Linked DNA regions of Homo sapiens. The protein of the gene in region 3 purifies or fractionates together with the protein of the main gene of each other region. This does not show direct contact. Each region holds a gene or a part of one and is shown on either strand. Other genes may lie near its edges.

Region 1 (4,952 bases), on a different chromosome or scaffold from region 3:
CTGGGATCAAGGCATGACTTCCACTGACAGCCTCTGAAGTTGGGCAGATGGGCTTTGAGTCCTGGTGCTGAATCTCAGGCCTGTGTGACCTCGGGAAAGTGACTATTTCCAAGCCTTGGCTTCTGGGAAATGGCGTGGTCAATAACAAATATCTCACTGTGGGGAACAACAGTTAGGTAGGGGCCTGTACCAGGTAAGGTGGCACGGCACCCTAGCGCCCAGAGACAGGAACTCCCCACACAGGGAGTATGCAATGGGGACAACCTCCAGTCCCAGCACTCTGGGAGGCTGAGGTGGGAGGATCGCTTGAGCCTGGGAGGCAGAGGTTGCAGTGAGCCGAGATCACACCACTGCACTCTAGCTTGGGCAACAGAGCGAGACTCCATCTCAAAAAGGAAAAAAAAAAAAAAAAAGAACAAAACAAATAAAAGGCCAGGCACAGTGGCTCACACCTGTAATCCCAGTACTTTGGGAGGCTGACACGGGCAGATCACTTGAGGTGAGGAGTTCAAGACCAGCCTGGCCAACAGGGTGAAACCCCGTCTCTACCAAAAAAATACAAAAATTAGCTGGGCATGGTAGTAGGCACCTGTAATCCCAGCTACTCAGGAGGCTGAGGCAGGAGAATCACTTGAACCGAGGAGGCAGGGGTTGCAGTGAGCCAAGATCATACCACTGCACTCCAGCCTGGGCGACAGAAGGAAACTCCATCTCAAAAAAAAAAAAAAAAAAAATGCCTTGAGGGCTTAAAATGGCAGACAGGGTATCAGGAGGCCTCAGACAACCTCCAATATCCTAGAAACACAGAGCTGGAAGGGCTCTTGGAGCGTGTCAAAAAAAAAAAAAAATTGTGCCATGCGCGATGGCTCACACCTGTAATCCCAGCACTTTGGGAGGCCAAGGCAGGCGGAGTTCGAGACCAGCCTGGCCAATATGGTGAAACCCTGTCTCTACTAAAAATACAAAAATTAGCTGGGCGTGGTGGCATGCGACTGTAATCCCAGCTACTTGGGAGGCTGAGGCAGAAGAATAGCTTGAACCCAGGAGACGGAGGTTGCAAGGAACCAAGATCATGCCATTGCACTCCAGCCTGGGCGACAAGAGCGAGACTTCGTCTCAAAAAAAAAAAATTGTTTTTAAAGCAATGGAACTGCTTATTCAGGTGGCACGAGGCAGGCCTAAGGCATCCTCAGATCCCCTGAAAAGCCGCACTTACGTGACAATGGGGAGTAGGGGGAACCACAGTGACTGGGAGAGTCCAGGCCACCTAAGGGGCAGCTTCAGGCCACTCCAGTTTGGCCTAAGCTCCTGGGTTTCCAAGAGAAATGAGAAATCAGAATTTTTCTCTAGAAATGTTTGAATGTTGACTCAATTTTAAAAACACACACGTAGCATGGGAGCTCAACAAAAAACATGCAGCAGGGTGAACTCACCCATTTAACATGTACGGAAACTGGGGCTCAGAGAGGGGAAGCTCCTTGCCCAATGTCACACAGCAATTTGGAGGAAGAGTTGGGACTTGGCTGCTTCCAAGCTCTGCTGTGCATGAGAGTGTGGGAGTGGGAGGAACAGAGCGAGTAGGGAGGAGTGGGTGGGAATCTGGACTTTACAGGCCAAGAGCCCTGCATGTTCTGATCATCAGGGAAGGAGTGTGGACAGAGGGATGGAGAGCGGATCAATATTTATTCAGAATAGTTATAACAACACCTGATGTTTTCTGTGTGTTTTCTATGTGCTAGGCCTTAAGATGGGATATCAAGGAGGAGTAAGAATGAGAATTCAGAGTGTAGAGTCTGGGCTGGGTGTGGTGGCTCACGCCTGTAACCCCAGCACTTGAGAGGCCAAGGTGGGATGATCGCTTGAGCCCAGAAGTTCAAGGTTATAGTGAGCTATGATTGTGCCACAGCACTCCAGCCTAGGCAACAGAGCAAGACCCTGTCTCAAAACAAACAAACAAAAAAACCCAAAACAAAAAAAAAAGAAAGATTCTGGATCCAAATCCTATGTCTCCCACTTCCTAGCTGGGTGACCTTGTGCAAATTACTTCACCTCTCTGAGCCTCAGCCTGTTCACATCATATGGCTGTTGGGGGAATTAAATGAGTTAAACCACATACAGTGCCTAGAACAGTGTCTGGCACCCAGTAAGCCCTGTTGATATTGGCTGTATTTATAATTGTTGCCTTTTGACAGACGGAGGAACTAAGGTTCACAAACGAACATGTTCAAAATTCCAAAGAGCCTGTTTAACCCCAGGGCCTCAGCTTTTGCCTGGTACCAAGATAAGTGCTTTACCACCATTCCCTTCCATCCAGCACCCCTGGAAGATAGGTCCTACTTATACCTGCATTCAACAGATGAGAAAACCAAAGCATAGAGAAACAGCCAACAGCCCCAGAAAGATGTGGAGCACCTGGATTCTAATACAGGCCAGTGCCCCCTAGCTCCCTATCACACTGCCTGCTTTCTGGGCTGCCTGCCTGCTTTCTGGCTGCAGAAGCCCCAGTCAAAAGTCTTACTGATACAAAGTCACTCGGCAGACGGGCTGGCTGCCCGCCATCTGAGCACATAGGATAAGAAGTTTCTCCCTGGGCCATCAGCCCCAGACGTTCCCTAGGGCCTGTGGGCACTGCCTCTGAGGTCCTTCCCTGCAATTTCTGGGGGCTGGCCAAGATCTCAAGCAGCTCTGAATGAATCATTCCCACAAATCCTCCTCTGGCTGCAGTAAAGGGTGGGGGAGACCTGAGAAGTGACGGGAGGGGACAGTCATCCCAGATCTCTGGAGGGGCCCCAGACCGGGTACATGCAGGTCCTCAGAGGGCACGGGGACTTGCAAGCAATCGGAATAGGCAGCAAGTCGGGGAGCAGGAGCTGCTGCTACCCAGAGAAGCTTCCCTGGTGCCACGTGGGGCATCAAAGCCACACAAGCCACATGCATTTTTCCAAGAAAGTACATTCTGGTCACCAACCCCAGGCTGTGAAGCTACATCTGATCTGCCACTCTTACTACAAATACACCCACAAAGTCACATCAATAATACATTTCAGGCCAGGCGTGGTGGCTCACACCTGTAATCCTAGCACTTTGAGAGGCCGAGGCGGGCGGATCACAAGGTCAGGAGATCGAGACCATCCTGGCTAACACGGGGAAACCCTGTCTCCACTAAAAATACAAAAAAATTAGTCAGGCATATGCCTGTAGTTCCAGCTACTCGGGAGGCTGAGGCAGGAGAATGGCGTGAACCCGGGAGGTAGAGCTTGGAGTGAGCCGAGATCACGCCACTGCACTCCAGCCTGGACAACACAGCGAAACTCCGTCTCAAAAATAATAATAATAATAATCATAATAATACATTTCAACAGCCTAACCGATCCCAAGGCACCACCACATCTTAGTTCTGAATGGTCTATGCCCATTCCTCAGTAGGGTACACTGACACCCAGAGAGCGGCAGTTCCTTGCCTAGGGAGCCTTCCCACCCCGTCTCCATGTCCCTAGGCTGCTTTCTTTCTTTCTTTTTTTAATATTTAATTGATTTTTATGTACTGACCTAATACCCTACAATCTCGCCCTGTTGCCCAGGCTGGAGTGCAGTGGTGCAATCTCAGCTCTCTGCAACCTCTACTCAAGCGATCCTTCCACCTCAGCCTCCCGGCTATCTGGGAATACAGGCGCGCACCACCACGCCTGGCTAATTTTTGTATTTTTTGTAGAGATGGAGTTTCACTATGTTATTCAGGCTGGTCTCAAACTCCTAGGTTCAACCAATCCATCCACCTCAGCCTCCAAAAGTGCTGGGATTACAAGCATGAGCCATGCACCCGGCCTAGGCTGCTTTCTTAATGCACAGGAACTCAGGATTTTAAAAGGACAAGGAAAGGCAAGTATGCAAAAAAGAATAAAGTCACGAGGTGCCAGATACAGCGGCTGGGAGGCGTGGTCTTAACACCATTCCCAAACAGCAGCTGCCCAGATGAACCAAGTTGTCAGGAAACTGGAACACGCAGATAAGTGCTGGTCTAAGTTCCTGAACCAGCAGAGTACAGGTTCAAGCTGGGGTGAACTACCTACCTTCTCAAGGAACTCTTCCTCTGTGAAAACGCTGGGTTCTGACCTGAGTTCTTCCGGTGCAGCCTCTTGCTGAAGCAAAGAGTGTGAAGGAAGAAACACAGGGTCCTAGGGGTGGGGAAGGTGCTGAGAGGAGGGGGAAGATGTCTGTGTGTGCAGAATGTTCACAGATGAAGCGTCTGTAACTCAGGACTGCTCATCTCAGGCCTGGGGGGTGGCCCCTCTTGAAATAAGCAGCAACTCACATAGGACACTCCGGTGGCCACCCAGAGAAGTCACCTTCAGAGTAGCGTGGGGGGTTCCAGATAGGGTGTGGGCAGGACCAGACTTAATTTTGGGGTCAAGGGACAAGTCTTCCCCTTCAGTTATGGTCTAGGAGAGCCATGGAGGGTCTCCCTGGCCTCCACAAAGCCTCAGCTGGCAAGGGGGCTCCAGGCTGGCCCGGGATGGGAAGATCCGAGCAGCTTCCACCTTCCTTTCACCCCCTCCTAATACTGTGTGCCAGCTCCTGGGGTGGGCTCTGTAAGCCACTGGGTCCTACACTGCCTCTCCTTGCTTCGGTATTTTCACAGAGTCTTGCTCTGTCACTTAGACCGGAGTGCAGTGGTGTGATTGATCTTGGCTTACTGCAACCTCTGCCTCCTGGGTTCAAGCGATTCCCCTGCCTCAGCCTCCCAAGTAGCTGGGGTTACAGGCACGCACCACCACACCTGGCTAATTTTTGTATTTTTAGTAGAGACGGGGTTTCACCATATTGGATAGGCTGGTCTCGAACTCCTGACCTCAGGTGACCTGCCCACCTTAGCTCCCAAAGTGCTGGGATTACAGGTGTGAGCCTCCGTGCCCGGCCTGAAAATAGTTTACAACTAACACATCAAAGCCAGT
Region 2 (4,952 bases), on a different chromosome or scaffold from region 3:
CCTCCACTTCCCGGGTTCAAGCAATTCTCCTACCTCAGCCTCCCAAGTAGCTGGGATTACAGACAAGCGCCACCCTAACCCTAATTTTTGTATTTTTAGTGGAGACGGGGTTTCTCCATGTTGGCCAGGCTGGTCTTGAACTCCTGGCCTCAGATGATCCGACTGCCTCAGCCTCCCAAAGTGTTAGGATTACAGCATGAGCCACCGCGCCAGGATGAACCTGTCTAGTTTAGTTTAAAATACACTGTAGCAAACATCCGTTGTTTTCTTCCCAGCATCTGCTCCCAGCTTTTCTGGTAACAGAACCCCAAATGTCCTTTGGAAGCCATATCTCCCCAATGCTTGCCTATGTCACTTGGGTGGGTCTGACTCTAGCCCCAGCTGCAGAGGTGGGCATGTGACCCAGGCCCAAGCTGATAAGCAAAACCCATTCCCCAGCCACAGAGATGGGTTGAGAGATATGGCCATTGATACGATGATGGACAGGTCTAGAATCTCCAGGGACAGCTGGAAAGGGAGACTCAGACTTGGGGGGCTGTAAGTGCAGCGCTGCCTCCCGGGCTATGCTGTGGGTCCTGCGAGTGAAGCTGGCACGGCGGGATGCAGAGCCAGGAAGGGAGACTAGGGTGTTGTCCTTTGTCTCTCACTCTGTCGCCCAGGCAGGAGTGCAGTGGCCTCTGTCGCCCAGGAGGGAGTGCAGTGGCACCATCTCAGCTCAGCAACCTCCTCCTCCCAGGTTCAAGAGATTCTTCTGCCTCAGCCTGGCACGAGATTCTCCTGGCCACGCTGGATCTTTTTGGTCAGCCGGACAATACACTGCCCCCCCGCTGTGCACGCATGTGTATGTGTGTATGTGTTTGTGCACATGTGCTTAAGGCACTGAGAACTGTTTCCTGTCAGTTATTTGCAACTGACAGAGTCCTAACATACAAGGAAGTCAGTCACCTGCACCCTTCTCGTGAGTGACAGACTACTTGTGGCCCATCTTGCCACTGATGGTCGCTGCCTTGTGGTTGAGAGCAGCCATCCTAGGGCAGCCTGACTTCATACAGACACCAGAAACACACAAAAAGCCACAACACACAGGTGTAACTCCTTGACCACCTCTGTTCAAGGCTGACACGCAGAGTTGAAGGTGCTTCCGGCTGGGTGTGGTGGCTTCTGGCTGGGTGTGGTGGCTCCCGCCTGTAATCCTAGCACTTTGGGAGGCCAAGGCAGGTGGATCACTTGAGGTCAGGAGTTGGAGACCAGCGTGGCCAACATGGCAAAACCCCGTCTCTACTAAAAATACAAAAAATTAGTTGGGCGTGGTGGTGGGTGCCTATAATCTCAGCTACTCGGGAGGCTGAGGCACAGAAAATCACTTGAACACGGGAGGTGGAGGTTGTGGTGAGCCAAGATCGCACCACTGCACTCCAACCTGGGATACAGAGTGAAACTGTGTCTAAAACAAAACAAAACAAAAAGGCACTTCCTTCCCTAGGGCTGGACTCACTGTGGCACGTGTGTGTCATCCTCCACCGGGCACCAGGCCGCCACCTCACACGTCTTGACAGACCCGTTGAAAGCTACGCACCTGCCTGTTGAGACTCCTACAAGCACAAGGGTGGCAGGGGGGTCCCATGTCCACAGGGGTCTCCTATTTTCTACCTTTTTGGAGTAGGGAGTGAGAGCCCCATCCAGCCTCCCATGCAGCCAGTCTTGAGCTGTGCAAATCTGGGATTTAGACAGTGTCACTGTCCAGGAGTTAGAATCGGAGGAAGACAGTTACCTGTGTGCCAGCCACATCTCAGCCAGGGTGATGCCAAGCTAAAGAATGGGACAAGAGGCCAGGCACAGTGGGTCATGCCTGTAATCCTAGCACTTTGGGAGGCTGAGGCGGGTGGATCACCTGAGGTCAGGAGTTCGAGACCAGCCTGGCCAACATGGTAAAACCCATCTCTACCAAAAGTACAAAAATTAGCTGGGCGTGGTGGTGCATGCCTGTAATCCCAGCTACTCGGGAGGCTGAGGCAGGAGAATTGTTTGAAACTGGGAGGTGGAGGTTGCAGTGAGCCGAGATCATGCCATTGCACTCCAGTTTGGGTGACAGAGCGAGACTCTGGCTCAAAAAAACAAAAAAACAAAACAAAAAAAAAAACAAGAAAAAACAACAACAACAACAAAAAAAAAAACAGTAGGGCAAGAGCTGGGATGGCTTGTGGGGCTCCAATGACAGCAGTGAATGTAGAGGGGCTCCAGGACCCCAGCCTCGGCACCTGGCTCACCCAGGGTCATGTGAAGGAATTGGGAAGATTTCTCTATCAGAGACGCTCCACAGTGGGGGCGATCTGCTCAGGGGCCGCCCTCCCCAGGAGGCCACAAGCTCGTACCGTTGCTGTGGGTGCCGGCAGAGCCGGCAGTACAGCTGGCATCTGATTTACACACAGTGGTCGCATCTGGAATCTGGAAAAAGAAGGAGCGAAAAGAAAGTCCACGTGGCCCGGCCCCACACACAGGTGGACAGGCGTGGAGAGGGGTGTGGGGCCTGGGGCTCTTCCCGGGGGCCTCCTACCTCGGGGCACAGGCCCTGTGTCTGGTTCATGGTGAGGATCACGTTGGTCATGACGAAGAGGGAGTTTTCCTCCTGCAGAGGGGAGACAGCACGGGCAAGCCACGCTCAGAGGACTCACGGAGAGCCAAGAAAGGCAGACGCTGACTGAAGAGGACAACTCAAACACTGACCGCGTGCTCTCCCGCTCTCTCCCATCAAAGTTTATAACCCAATGGAAAACAGTGACTCAAACAAGTCCTTGTACATAAATATTCAGAGCAACACTTTTCACAAGAGCCAAAAGGTGGAAACAGGTCGGGCGCGGTGGCTCAAGCCTGTAATCCCAGCACTTTGGGAGGCTGAGGCGGGCGGATCACGAGGTCAGGAGTTCAAGACCAGCCTGGTCAACACAGTGAAACCCCCGTCTCTACTAAAAATACAAAAATTAGCCGGGTGTGATGGCGGGCACCTGTAGTCCCAGCTACTTGGGAGGCTGAGGCAGGAGAATTGCTTGAACCCGGGAGTCGGAGGTTGCAGCGAGCCGACATCGCGCCACTGCACTCCAGCCTGGATGACACGAGACTCTGTCTCAAAAAAAAAAAAAAAATGGTGGAAACAGCCCAAATGTCTGTCCTAGTCTAGTCACATGATGGAATGTGATTCAGCCATGAATAAAAAGGAATGAAGGGTCCAGGCATGGTGGCTCACACCTGTAATTCCAGCACTTTGGGAGGCTGAGGCAGGAGGATCACCTGAGGTCAAGAATTCCAGATTAGCCTGGCCAACATGGTGAAACTTTGTACTAAAAACACACACACACACACACACACACACACACAAACACACACAGACACACGCACACACAAAAGGAGCCGGGTGTGGTGGCGGGCACCTGTAATCCCAGCTACTCAGGGGGCTGAGCCAGGAGAATCACTGGAACCTGGGAGGTGGAGGTTGCAGTGAGCCGAGATCACGCCAGTGCACTCCAGCCTGGGTGACAGAGTGAGATTTCATCTCAAAAAATAAAATAAAGGAATAAAGCACTGATACAGGCTACAACATGGATGAACCCCAAAAACATGATGCTGAGTGAAAGAAGCCAGACACAAAGGCCACACAGGATACCATTACATTGATGTGAAATTTCCAGAACAGTCAAGTCCATAGAGACAAAGCACTTACGGGTTGCCAGGGAGTGAGAGAAGTGGGGAATGGGGAGTGGTTGTGTAACATACGAGGCTTCCCTTTGGGGTGATGGAAATGTTTTGAACTAGATAGAGGTGATGCTTGCATAACACTGTGAATGCACTAAATGTGCTGAATTTTTCATTTTAAAATGGTTAATTTCTTTCTTATTTATTTATTTATTTGAGACAGAGCCTTGCTCTGTCGCCCAGGCTGCAGGGCAGTGGCACGATCTTGGCTTACTGCAATCTCCGCCTCCTGGGTTCAAGCGATTCTCCAGCCTCACCCTCCTGAGTAGCTGGGACTACAGGTGTACATCACCACACCTGGCTAATTTTTGTATCTTTAGTAGAGATAGGATTTCACCATGTTGGCTAGGCTGGTCTCCAACTCCTGGCCTCAAGTGATCTACCTGCCTCAGCCTCCCAAAGTGCTGGGATTACAAGCATGAGCCACTGTGCCCGACTTAAAATGGTTAGTTTCTATAAGTGAATTTGACTGCAGTTAAAAAAAGGGGGGGGTCTGCAAACTGAAACAATGGTTTCTCAATCAAACTTGACTTACTGAGGGAAAGAGCCAACAAGTGCTAAAAACATTCCCTGCCAACCAGATTATCTCAGAGGAATAAAAACATGAGGCCTCATGGGGCTCAAATCTGGCTGGTTTTCTTTCCTAACTGAAATTATAAATCAAACATTCTAGAGAAGACTCGGTCAGGGTCAGCAAGTGACATTTCTCTTTGAAAAGGTTCTGTTTCCTCCTTATATGTATAAAGGTGCCAAATAATTGATTTAGAGTTTCTGGAAAGCAATTTGCTAGGGATGAGACTGAAGAATTGCTGATAATGACCTCCTCATATAAGGAATAAAAGGCAAAGACCCCAAAAGATTCTAGTTGGATCCTCCTCTCATTGGGGGCTGGTGTCCATCCATCTAATCTAATCTATCTATTATCTGTCTATCTATCTATCTATCTATCTATCTATCTATCTAATCTATCCTATATCTATCATCTGTTTTCTATTTATCGATTATCTATCACCTATCTAATCTATCCTATCATCTGTCATCTATCCTATCCCTTTTCTTTCTTTTCTCTTCTCTTTTCTTTCTTTCCCTTTCTTTCTCCTATCCTATCATTTATCTATTCTTTCTTTCTTTCCATCTATCTATCTATCTATCTATCTATCTATCTATCTATCTATCCATCCATCCATCCATCCATCCATCCATCC
Region 3 (4,952 bases):
GCCCTGTCCTCAAAATTGAGACCATGTGGCACTCTTTGTATCACATAACTGACACGAAGGCACTCGATTTCTTTTAGTTGACCTAAACCAATAGAAATTTTGGCTCTTGGGTCTAGATTTTAATATTGCTAGAAGTAATTTCTTTATTTATCATGATTACCATATTGATAGGCTCTAGTATTTTTAAAAAGTCGTATGTAAAAAGGAACAATTGTCATTTGTAGTATATTTTATAGATTGAATAAAATAACAGAACAGTGAACTTTTTTTTTAACCTTTTCTTTTAAGCGAGTAATTGTTACTGTGCAGTGGGGATAAGTATTTTCACAAATAGGTAAAAATCCTGCAGGTCTAGTTTAATACCCTTTATGTTTAAGTGAGTAAAATCTGTCTTCCCATTGAATTTGTAAACTTTGACATGGAGACGTCTTTGTTCCTAACTCTTTCCTTTAGGTTATTATCGCACTGAGAGAGATAAGGGCACACAGTATGAACTCTTTTTTAAGAAAGCAGACCTTACGGAATATAGACATGTGACCCTCTTCCGCCCTTTTGGACCTCTCATGAAAGTGAAGAGTGAGATGATTGACATCACTAGATCAATTATTAATATCATTGTGCCACTTGCTGAAAGAACTGAAGCATTTGTACAATTTATGCAGAACTTCAGGTAACTGTCAGGGCTTAATGATTAAGCTACATTCTCCTAAAAAAAATCACGTTTTACTCAGATTTCCTTAATTTATCTTCACCGATTATAATTACTTAGAATAATTTTACAGGCTTTAGGGGAACTTTATTTTTTTATATTCTCTCTTTTTTTAAAGCATGTGTAGTATATTGTGTTATAGACAATTTGAACTATGAAATAAATTAAGAGTGACACCTATTAGAAACTAAATTTGATGGCCTTGATAATTGTTTTGAATTCATTTTAAGACAAGTTGAATTTTTAAAAAATCAACTTTACTAAGGAATAATTTACATGCAGTAAAATCCACATATTTTAAGGATATAGGTATCATGACTCTTTTTTTATTTTTATTTTTTTTTTTGAGACAGGGTCTCACTCTATCACCCAGGCTAGAATGCAGTGGAGTGAGCACAGTTCACTGCAGCCTCAACCTCCTGGGCTCAAGTGATCCTCCTGCCTCAACCTCCCAAGTAGCTGGGACCACAGGTGCATGCCATCTTTTTTATTCTTTGTAGAGAGAAGGTCTTGCCATGTTGTCCAGGCTGGAATTTAATGTCTTTTGACAAACGTATACACTCACGAACCACCACCCCAATTAAGATACAGAATACTTGTGTCTCACAAGAAAATCCCCTTGAGAATGATTTGAGTTTTTTAATTGAAATACATTTAGACATACAAACATTAAACTAAAAATTGGAGAAAGTTATTTCAGCTTGCAAAGCAGAGAATTTGTAAAGTTTTTTTATGTTATCAAATTTGTATATTTTAAAATGCTGAAGTGTTAAATAATTATCTACACATTATGAAAACTATTTGTGGAAAATGCTTTTTGATTTAACAGTTTCCATGTTTCTAATACTTTAATATTTTTAATGTTTTAGATACTTTGATATACTGGTTTAATGCTTTGTGATCCTAGTCTTTATTCTCATATTGAAATTGTTGGATTTAAAAGGTTAATTAAAACTGGTCTGCAGCTGAATGTCTGGCAGTCATACTTCCAAGTGAGATTTACTGTTCCAAATAGCTCACTTGAGATCCGATTTCCTAAAGCATTTTTTTATTGCCTTTCTTGGAATTACTTTCAAAGGCCACATTATTATTTACAGTAAGTAATCTCAGTCATGGCAAATATTTATTCCTTAATGATAGTTACAATTTTTGGAATTAGCCAGTCTGAAGACAAAATAACTCTTAATCCAAAAGGTCAGTATTTATTTATGTGGTTCTGAACCAGTTGAGTTTATTTCCTTGAATAGCTTGTGATTTGCTTCTGAAAGCAATCCAAAAGCAAAAGTTCAAAAAATGTTTTGAAATAATGGCAGCAATGTCAGACTGCTTCCATGGCCCTCCAAGGGGTGCACTCATTCAGGCATAGACCTTGTGCCTTCCATAATTCATCAGTATTGCCACATTTATGTTTACTACTGTGTCAGTAATGCCTCATTTTCTTGTTAAAGCTTCATGTGGTTGCTTTCTTAATGAATAGTGCCTCATGTTTTCTTGAATAAACTTTTATTTTTCACTTCTGTTAGGGATGTTTGTATTCATCAAGACAAGAAGATTCATCTCACAGTGGTGTATTTTGGTAAAGAAGGACTGTCTAAAGTCAAGTCTATCCTAGAATCTGTCACCAGGTTGGTGAACCACATCTGCAGTGAAGGCCTTGATATATAACATTGCTAAAAGAGAATTTCAGATATGTAATGAGTTAATAATTTTTAGTAACTATTATTTAAAAATTGGCTGAGCATGTGGGCGGTGGTGGTGATGATAAGTTCCTCATTTCACATGCAACCCTACATGACTCAACTTCCCTTCACTGCTTAGCAAGCAGCCTGGCATGATGCTTTCTCTGTGGCCCACTCACCTTCTGTGTATTTGCTGCTGCTTTCCTTTTTTTAAAATCTAATTCCTTCACTTTGACATAATCATCTTCTGAATTTGTCTCTTTTTTGTCACCTTTCTTTCCTTCCATTTCCTCAGGCTCCTTCTTCTCCCCCTGCTAACAATGTTGAGGTCTCCCATATCCTTAAGAAACTCCCACTCAACTCTGAAGTGCCCAGCCACTACTGTTATGTTTCTGTCCTTTCACAGCTCAACATCACGAGACAGTAGTTCATAGCTAAGCAAGTCATATAGTACCTGGCACATAGTAGATGCTCAGAGGTTTGAATGGATGAATTAGTAATCCCTTAGTACTTAATTATTAATTCTTTAGCCTCTCAGCCTTTTTCTTTCTAAATCATGGGCCCAAAGATAACGACTTAACTGCCAAATTCTTTTCTGTTATTCTTTTTCATTGCTTTTTTACCTTTGACAACCTAACCAGTATTTCTGTCTTAAAATGTTCTTCTTGTGTTTGTAAAATGTAACTATTTTGTAAATGTAAGTATGATGTAATGTAAACTATTAGGTTGATTATCATCTCTAACCACACCAGCTCTATATCCTTTACTTGCTTCTTTACCTTTCTGCCAGTTGTGGCCATTTGCCAAGAGCCCAGATTTGATCAGCCATTCTTCTCAAATCATTCAACTCACATTCATTGAGTCCTGCCTACTGTGTTCCAGGTACACTGCTTGGGAGTTTGACTGGGGTAGTTGGAAGAAGAGTGGGCGTAGATGAGTGAATCTGAGTCCCTGACCTGCAGGGATTCTCAGAGCCTTGATGTATATAGACACAATTCACTGTCTTCCCCTTCCCTACACCAGCTCCTCCTCCTGATGGCCCTCTTTCAGTTCAGAGTAAAACCATTTTCACCATCTGGGCATGACTTCTGAGAGCCACAGTCTTTTACTTATTCTTTGCCTCCAGTTACCTCTAATTAGTTAGTTCCTACTTAATTCACAGGACCTCTTCTCTATCTCTTCCTTGCTACTGCCACCACCCTAACCCTGGTTCCCCCTCCCTCCATTTCTTCCCTTCCTGTCCCTCCTTAGTGTTTTTAGATCACCTACTAAGTGCCACAAGCTCACACTGGTAATACTGAAGTATTGTCAAGACACTTCTGTGGCAAATGGTGTAAACCTACCTTGAGCTTGCTTGAGGAAAATAGGAGCAGTATTGAAGAATCTCGGATACCTCCCAGAAATAAAGGGATTGTTACAACCAAATTTGGGGAAGAAAATCAAAACAACTCTTGTTTCTCAGGGATTGGAACCAGAGACTTGAATACCATCAAAATTCTCGTCTCCTTGTCTGTTTTTCTCTGCATGTTGACTTCATTCTCCTGTTGCAGATTGGCTTCTTCCACATGGTGAGGGATATGACTGTTGGCGGCTCTGGGCTCACATCTTCTCAGCTTTGCCATCAGAGAGGAAAGAGCTTTCTCCCAGCTCCAGTTGAGAAAATCCCAGGGAAGGACATTTTGCCCACTCTTGAGCCAATCACTATGGCCAGGTTGGGTGGGGGTATTGGGACTGGCCCAGCTTAAGCCTGGTCTCCACCCCTAGGAAATTACTGTGGTTGGGGTGGGCAGAGAGTGAGGGGTATTCTGTGATCAGTGCCTCCACTTGATGCTGAGTATGTGGGGTGGCAATGGGCAGTTTTCCCCCAACAGAGGAGAGATTTATATTCCTTAAGACGGGGAGAAGAGTCCTAGGCATTCAGAGCACTTGGAGTCCACTCCATGCACTATTTGAGCCTTTGTTCCATCTCTCCATTACCCATTCTGTACTGTTGTAAGTGTAATCCTCCTAAAATGTTACTTTTTTGATTAGGCTGCACCCTAGTGCAGTGAGTGATTCTCCAGCTTCAGTGCCAGAGTCACCAGGAGGACTTGTGAAAATGTAGAGGCTTCTCTCCAGCCCTAGCATCTGATTCAGTGGGTCTGGCTGTAGTCTGAGAGTTTGCTTCTCTAACATGTTAACACAGGAAGCTGATGCTGTGGGTTTGGGGGCCTCACTGTGAGAACCACTGCCCTAGCAGAAAAGTCCTGCTGATTCTCTTTGCCTTTAGGATACTGACCAATTTCTTTAACCTTGCATGGGAGGTACTCTTCACTCTGACCCTTCTCTCATTGTTCCCATTTTAAGATTCCGTTGACCCTTATCTCACTGTTCCCATTTTAGGGTCCTTTTCTACCAATCTGATTTGTCTGATCCCTTTTCTCTAAAATGCTTTCTACATTCTTACCTCTTTGCCTTTGAGAATAATTATTTTGAATGACCTTTACACTCACCACTGAATTCAACATTTTAACCAAGGCATAACTCACGTTCCACTTCTAACATCTTCTCTAACTACTCCAGAC
Region 4 (4,952 bases), on a different chromosome or scaffold from region 3:
GTTTCCTTTTCTATGCTACACAAACATACACTTTTGTTTTACTTTAAACACAGAAGGGCTTTGTACTGGCCATACTGTTTTACAGTTTACTTTCACTTAAGTATATTCTGAACCTCTCCTCATGTCAATAAAAGTATTTCAGCCACACCATTTTTACTTGTTAGAGATGCAGACCACAGTATGGATGAATCAGTTAAGTCAATTTTGGTCCTTATCTCCTAAAGCAGGACACCTAAAATACCTGAAATTTCCACTTCATATGTACACATTTAAGCACACCTTTAAAATTCCTTTGGAAAAAATTCTAGAGCAATTGCCAGACCTCAAGAGAGCTGCATTTTAGACTTCTTGATAAATGCTACCCAAGCGTCCCTCAACAGGTACCGGTCCTGTCCAGCTCTAGCTAGGTACCGGTACTTGACCAACTCTAGCCACCCTCTGCAGCAGCAACACCGCTGGGCTGATCTTCCAAAACACACATCCCATCAGGCTACTGTCCTGCCGAAATGTCACCAATAGCTCTGGACAGCAACCACACAAAGCCTGGCACGCAGACCTTCCCTCCATGTCCCTGCCCACCACTCTACCACCCACAGCCTACACCTAGCCCCAAAGAGCTGGCCTTTCCCATCGCTCCTTCACTAACTCCTGCCATTTCATGTTGTAGGAAACCTGTAGTTGTCTCTGCCTCAAAAACACCTCTTCATCTTCCAAGACTCAGCTAGTGGGTAAAAAAAGGGTGGGAGTGTGGGTGAGACATTTCTTGATCCATCACCCACTGGGTGTAAGCCTCTTTCTTCTGCTCCCCCACAGTGATTAGTTCACGCACCCTGACAGCCCTCATCAACCAATACCATCGCTCGTTTCCTTCTGAGACAATGAACTCTGCAGAGACTAGGGCCCTGTATTTGGAATCTACTGTTAATAAAGAGCAGCTTAGTTAACAGACAGGGGAACGTGAAGCTGCCGGTGCAATGGAAACAGTCACGCACAATCCGCTATTGACAGCCACATCTATCCCTGGAATCAATCCGCTATTGACAGCCACAGCCATCCCTGGAAATCCCTGGAATATTGTTTGAGCGCTTCAAGATCTTGAACCTGACATAAAAAACTACACTCATTTTCAGAGCCACATGGTTCCCTAGTCTCCTACAGGAAATTCACGATCTGAAATGACTTGGTGCTCCAAAAGTTCACTTACAGGTTGATTATTTGGATTTTACATGGAAAAGCCTTCTGTATAAATGTTTGCCAAGTTGAATTCTATCTAAGAAAGTGAGGACTGCTCTGAACTGTTTCAAGATAAACATGGTTTACTTAGCTCAAGAAATAAGGAAATGAATTCAGATTTATAAGATAGGAGGATCTCATTAAGGTTGGTAGAGGAACAGTCCGTCTTCATTTAAGGCATTAGGAAGAGATCATTCACTGATAATAGTATCCTGAAATCAGATTCCTATATCTCTAGGTAATGCTTCTCAAACTTTCTTCCCACAGTCCCCTACAGACTGATGCTAATCTGTAATGGTGCCCTTGTTCAATCTTGGCGCAAAGAAGGGAAACCATCCACCTCTTTCTTCTGACAACATAAAAAAAGAACAAAACTATTCCCCATCTTCAGCCCAGAGAGGGTAAGAACCAAAACAAACAAAAGGTGTTGGATTAGCTCAAGGTTCTGGGCATAAAAATGGACGAATAAGCAAAATACGTGTGGCTTTTTTTTTTTTTTAATCAAAACGTTGATTAAAAAAATCTAAATAGCACAGAAACTCTCTCAGCAAGAAAAGGTAAGTGTAGCCAAGAAATGTTTGAAGCAGATGAATAACAAAGGGGAACTTGTCCACCGGATATTAAAATATTATTCAACCTCCAATAATTTCAATGGGTGGTACTGGCACAAGAACAGACAGAAAGTTCAACGGAACAAAACATGAAGTCCAGAAACATACCCAAGAATTCTGAGCATGACGAAGATGGCATTTCAAACTGGTAGGGAAATGAGAACTTAGTCAACGGTACATGGTGCTGCGACCACATACTATTTGGGGAAAAAATAAAGTTGAGATGATTTCTACCCTTTCTAGAATTAGGAAGGAAACGTTACCTTTAAAAATCTCTCCAGGGCAGTAACTGTGAACCTGGGGTAGAGAAAACTAAAATCAGAAAGGGAAAGACATAGACTGAACTACATGAACATTTCCCTTCCATATATCACAGAACATAACTAAAAAGAAAATGTTTAAATATGGGAAAAATACGAATTGCAGCTAGTAATGCAAGACACAAGAAACCCAGAGGTTCTGACAAGCTGTCCTTAATTTGCATAATAAATGACTTCAGAGGAATCACAGTACCATTTTAAAGCGAAATTACCTAGAACACACACTTGCAGATGAGTCAAAATAAATTATTTTATGTGTTAACTTACAGAACCCCAGCTACCCACCTCCTTTTCCTGCATAAACCCTCCAGTGGCTTTCTAATTCACTCAGAATGAAACTTTACAAGACTGGACACTAGCGAGCCCCTTCTTGGGGCTCTTCTTTTACTGGCCTTCTTGGCTTTCTTTCTTTTACTGGCCTTCTTGGTGTTCCTTTCCAAGCCGGTCCCTGCCTTGGGACTTCCCGGTGCTTCCTTGGCCCTCATGCTCATCAATGATATTCACACAACTGGCTCTTCATGATCAAATCTCAGCCCAAATGGCACTCTCTCCAAACTCTTCCCTAATCACCTAACACAGAGAGGACACACTTGCCCTGCCCCAACCCTGTTCTATTTTCTCTACAGCATCCATCACTAGCAGAAACCCTCTTTTTAGTGTCGTCCCTCTGACTAAAGAACATGACAGCAAGCCGTGTACTGCAGTGTCCCCCAGGACTCAGGGTCGGGGGCCAGAGGGGCCATGCATGCATGTGCTTTACAAAGAAATGGATCCTAAGTAACGAATCAGGATCACTCCTATTAACTCCACAGCTACTGTGTCACTCAGGGCCTCCAAAGCTCAGCCCTGGCTGGTCTCTCACCTGCTACATTTTGAGTTTTGTCTCGCCTGCTTTGAAAAATCTGTTTCTTGTCTGCTATCAGCTGTCACTGCCCTGCTATATCTTGGTGGCCCCCATCCATCCCTCAAGCAGATGGCAGGTCTAGAAAGTAAAAATGTGTAATGATGGAGATGTTCTATCATCAAAGTGCTGTGCCTTTAGTGTGGACGGGCATATCTCCTTGGATTTTCAAAAGCTTTTTTAGCCCCTTTCTGGATCTCAGAGTTGTTGGAATGAAGAGGTTGCTAGCTACTAGTCCCTTCACCTAAATTCTGACATTTTCAGTATTCTACACCAAAGTATCATCTTACTGAAAGTGCTGGCATCTCCTTCATCTATAAGCCAAACAACAGTTGTTTTTTTGTTTTTTTTAAAAAACAAAACTACAGTTTTCGATAAGATGAAGAATGAATTTACCTTTCAGGAGAAATGTAAAGCTCAGCACATCGATTTCCAAACTAGAGTTCTACCTTGTGCTAGAAGAGTCAAGCTTACTTTTATACTGAACTGTGCATGGAATTTCCAATTTAAGAGCTCAGTGTGGACTTTTGGTCTGGGCTGCAAAGCACAGTAAAACTGGAATCATATGTTATACCCTATAACCTCCATCCCAATTGAGGCCCTCCCCAAAAGTTCCTTAACTTTTAGCCTTAAGGCTAAAATCGTCTTGTGCCAACTCCTGCAGTCAGTCTAAACACAGGGTTGGCAGGCAAGAGGCAAAGGACCCTAACTGGCAGGGCAGGTCCACCTCCAGGCTCCATGCACTCTGACTTCTTAAGATCTGAGAGATAAAAGGAAACTTCTGTGAGAGAGCTGGAGTGACATTAGCTGGACACTATCTCCTGGTAGGCGTTTTCCTTTCTCAGAAAGGCAGAGGTGTCAAAAGAAAGGGAGAACCCCGCCTGGGGGCAAACTGTGTTTCTGCTTTCCCCTAACCACCTGAAAAAAAAATAATAAATAAACAATGAGATTAAGTCTTACATCCAGAAAAAGATGAGGGAAGAGATGTGGAAAGGAGGCCAAAAGTAAGAGCGTTAAGCTCGAGTTTGGAAAACCATCTCCAAGTGTGAAACAGTAGTTCTAGTTTGCATTACATTTTCTTTTACTTATTTTCTTTTTTTTGAGACGGAGTCTTGCTCTGCCCCCCAGGATGGAGCGCAGTGACGCAATCTCGGGTCACAGCAACCTCTGCCTCCTGGGTTTACGCCATTCTCCTGCCTCAGCCTCCCGAGTAGCTGGGACTACAGGCACCTGCCACCAAGCCTGGCTAATTTTTTTTTTTTTTTTTTTTTTTGCATTTTCAGTAGAGATGGGGTTTCACCGTGTTAGCCAGGATGGTCTTGATCTCCTGACCTCATGATCCGCCCGCCTCGGCCTCCCAAAGTGCTGGGATGACAGGCGTGAGCCACCGCGCCCGGCCTGCATTACATTTTCTGAGTATTGCTGGTGCATTAGGCCCCCCACTGATTTGAATATATTGATACCGTAACCATGAAAATGTATTTGGTTCAGGGGGCATGGGGGAGATAAGGGAGTTACCTAATTTACTGTTTGTACTAACTGGTTTGTTAACTGTCCCCAAAACTGTGATTTCACATGGTCTATCACCACACTAGAGTCATGCGGATTTACTTTCAAAACCATGCTGTAAATAATCTATATGGCTCATCCTCGATTTCCGATACGGCTGTTTCTCTGGTCAAAAAAAAAAAAAAAATCCCATAAAACCTCAGGTAATGCAAGGTAGATCTGGGAGAGATCCTGATAGGCTGGTTCCCAAATCACTGCACTAGTCTATGTATCTCTATCTATCGATCGATAGATAGAATTTTTTTTTTTTTTTTTTTTTGAGATGGAGTCTCACTCTGTAGCCCAGGCTGGAGTGCAGTGGCATGATCTTGGCTCATT

What was found. The genes of interacting proteins can lie anywhere in the genome.
Region 1: the proteins of CSGALNACT2 (region 3) and TPST2 purify together in Homo sapiens (co-immunoprecipitation; 3 studies listed by BioGRID and IntAct, with this or other methods). This does not show direct contact.
Region 2: the proteins of CSGALNACT2 (region 3) and P2RX4 purify together in Homo sapiens (co-immunoprecipitation; 3 studies listed by BioGRID and IntAct, with this or other methods). This does not show direct contact.
Region 4: the proteins of CSGALNACT2 (region 3) and CHSY1 purify together in Homo sapiens (co-immunoprecipitation; 3 studies listed by BioGRID and IntAct, with this or other methods). This does not show direct contact.

Annotation. Positions count from the first base shown.
Region 1 is NC_000022.11:26,582,723-26,587,674, forward strand, and holds part of TPST2 (protein-tyrosine sulfotransferase 2), read right to left. Parts: intron 1-4,952. UniProt on the Homo sapiens protein: Catalyzes the O-sulfation of tyrosine residues within acidic motifs of polypeptides, using 3'-phosphoadenylyl sulfate (PAPS) as cosubstrate.
Region 2 is NC_000012.12:121,219,587-121,224,538, reverse strand, and holds part of P2RX4 (P2X purinoceptor 4), read right to left. Parts: intron 2,627-4,952; coding exon 2,555-2,626; intron 2,446-2,554; coding exon 2,373-2,445; intron 1,810-2,372; exon of another isoform or gene 1,772-1,809; intron 1,593-1,771; coding exon 1,496-1,592; intron 1-1,495. UniProt on the Homo sapiens protein: ATP-gated nonselective transmembrane cation channel permeable to potassium, sodium and calcium. CTP, but not GTP or UTP, functions as a weak affinity agonist for P2RX4.
Region 3 is NC_000010.11:43,158,262-43,163,213, forward strand, and holds part of CSGALNACT2 (chondroitin sulfate N-acetylgalactosaminyltransferase 2), read left to right. Parts: intron 1-453; coding exon 454-670; intron 671-1,062; coding exon of another isoform or gene 1,063-1,087; exon of another isoform or gene 1,088-1,103; intron 1,104-2,232; coding exon 2,233-2,334; intron 2,335-3,938; exon of another isoform or gene 3,939-4,099; intron 4,100-4,952. UniProt on the Homo sapiens protein: Transfers 1,4-N-acetylgalactosamine (GalNAc) from UDP-GalNAc to the non-reducing end of glucuronic acid (GlcUA). Required for addition of the first GalNAc to the core tetrasaccharide linker and for elongation of chondroitin chains.
Region 4 is NC_000015.10:101,244,639-101,249,590, forward strand, and holds part of CHSY1 (chondroitin sulfate synthase 1), read right to left. Parts: intron 1-4,952. UniProt on the Homo sapiens protein: Has both beta-1,3-glucuronic acid and beta-1,4-N-acetylgalactosamine transferase activity. Transfers glucuronic acid (GlcUA) from UDP-GlcUA and N-acetylgalactosamine (GalNAc) from UDP-GalNAc to the non-reducing end of the elongating chondroitin polymer.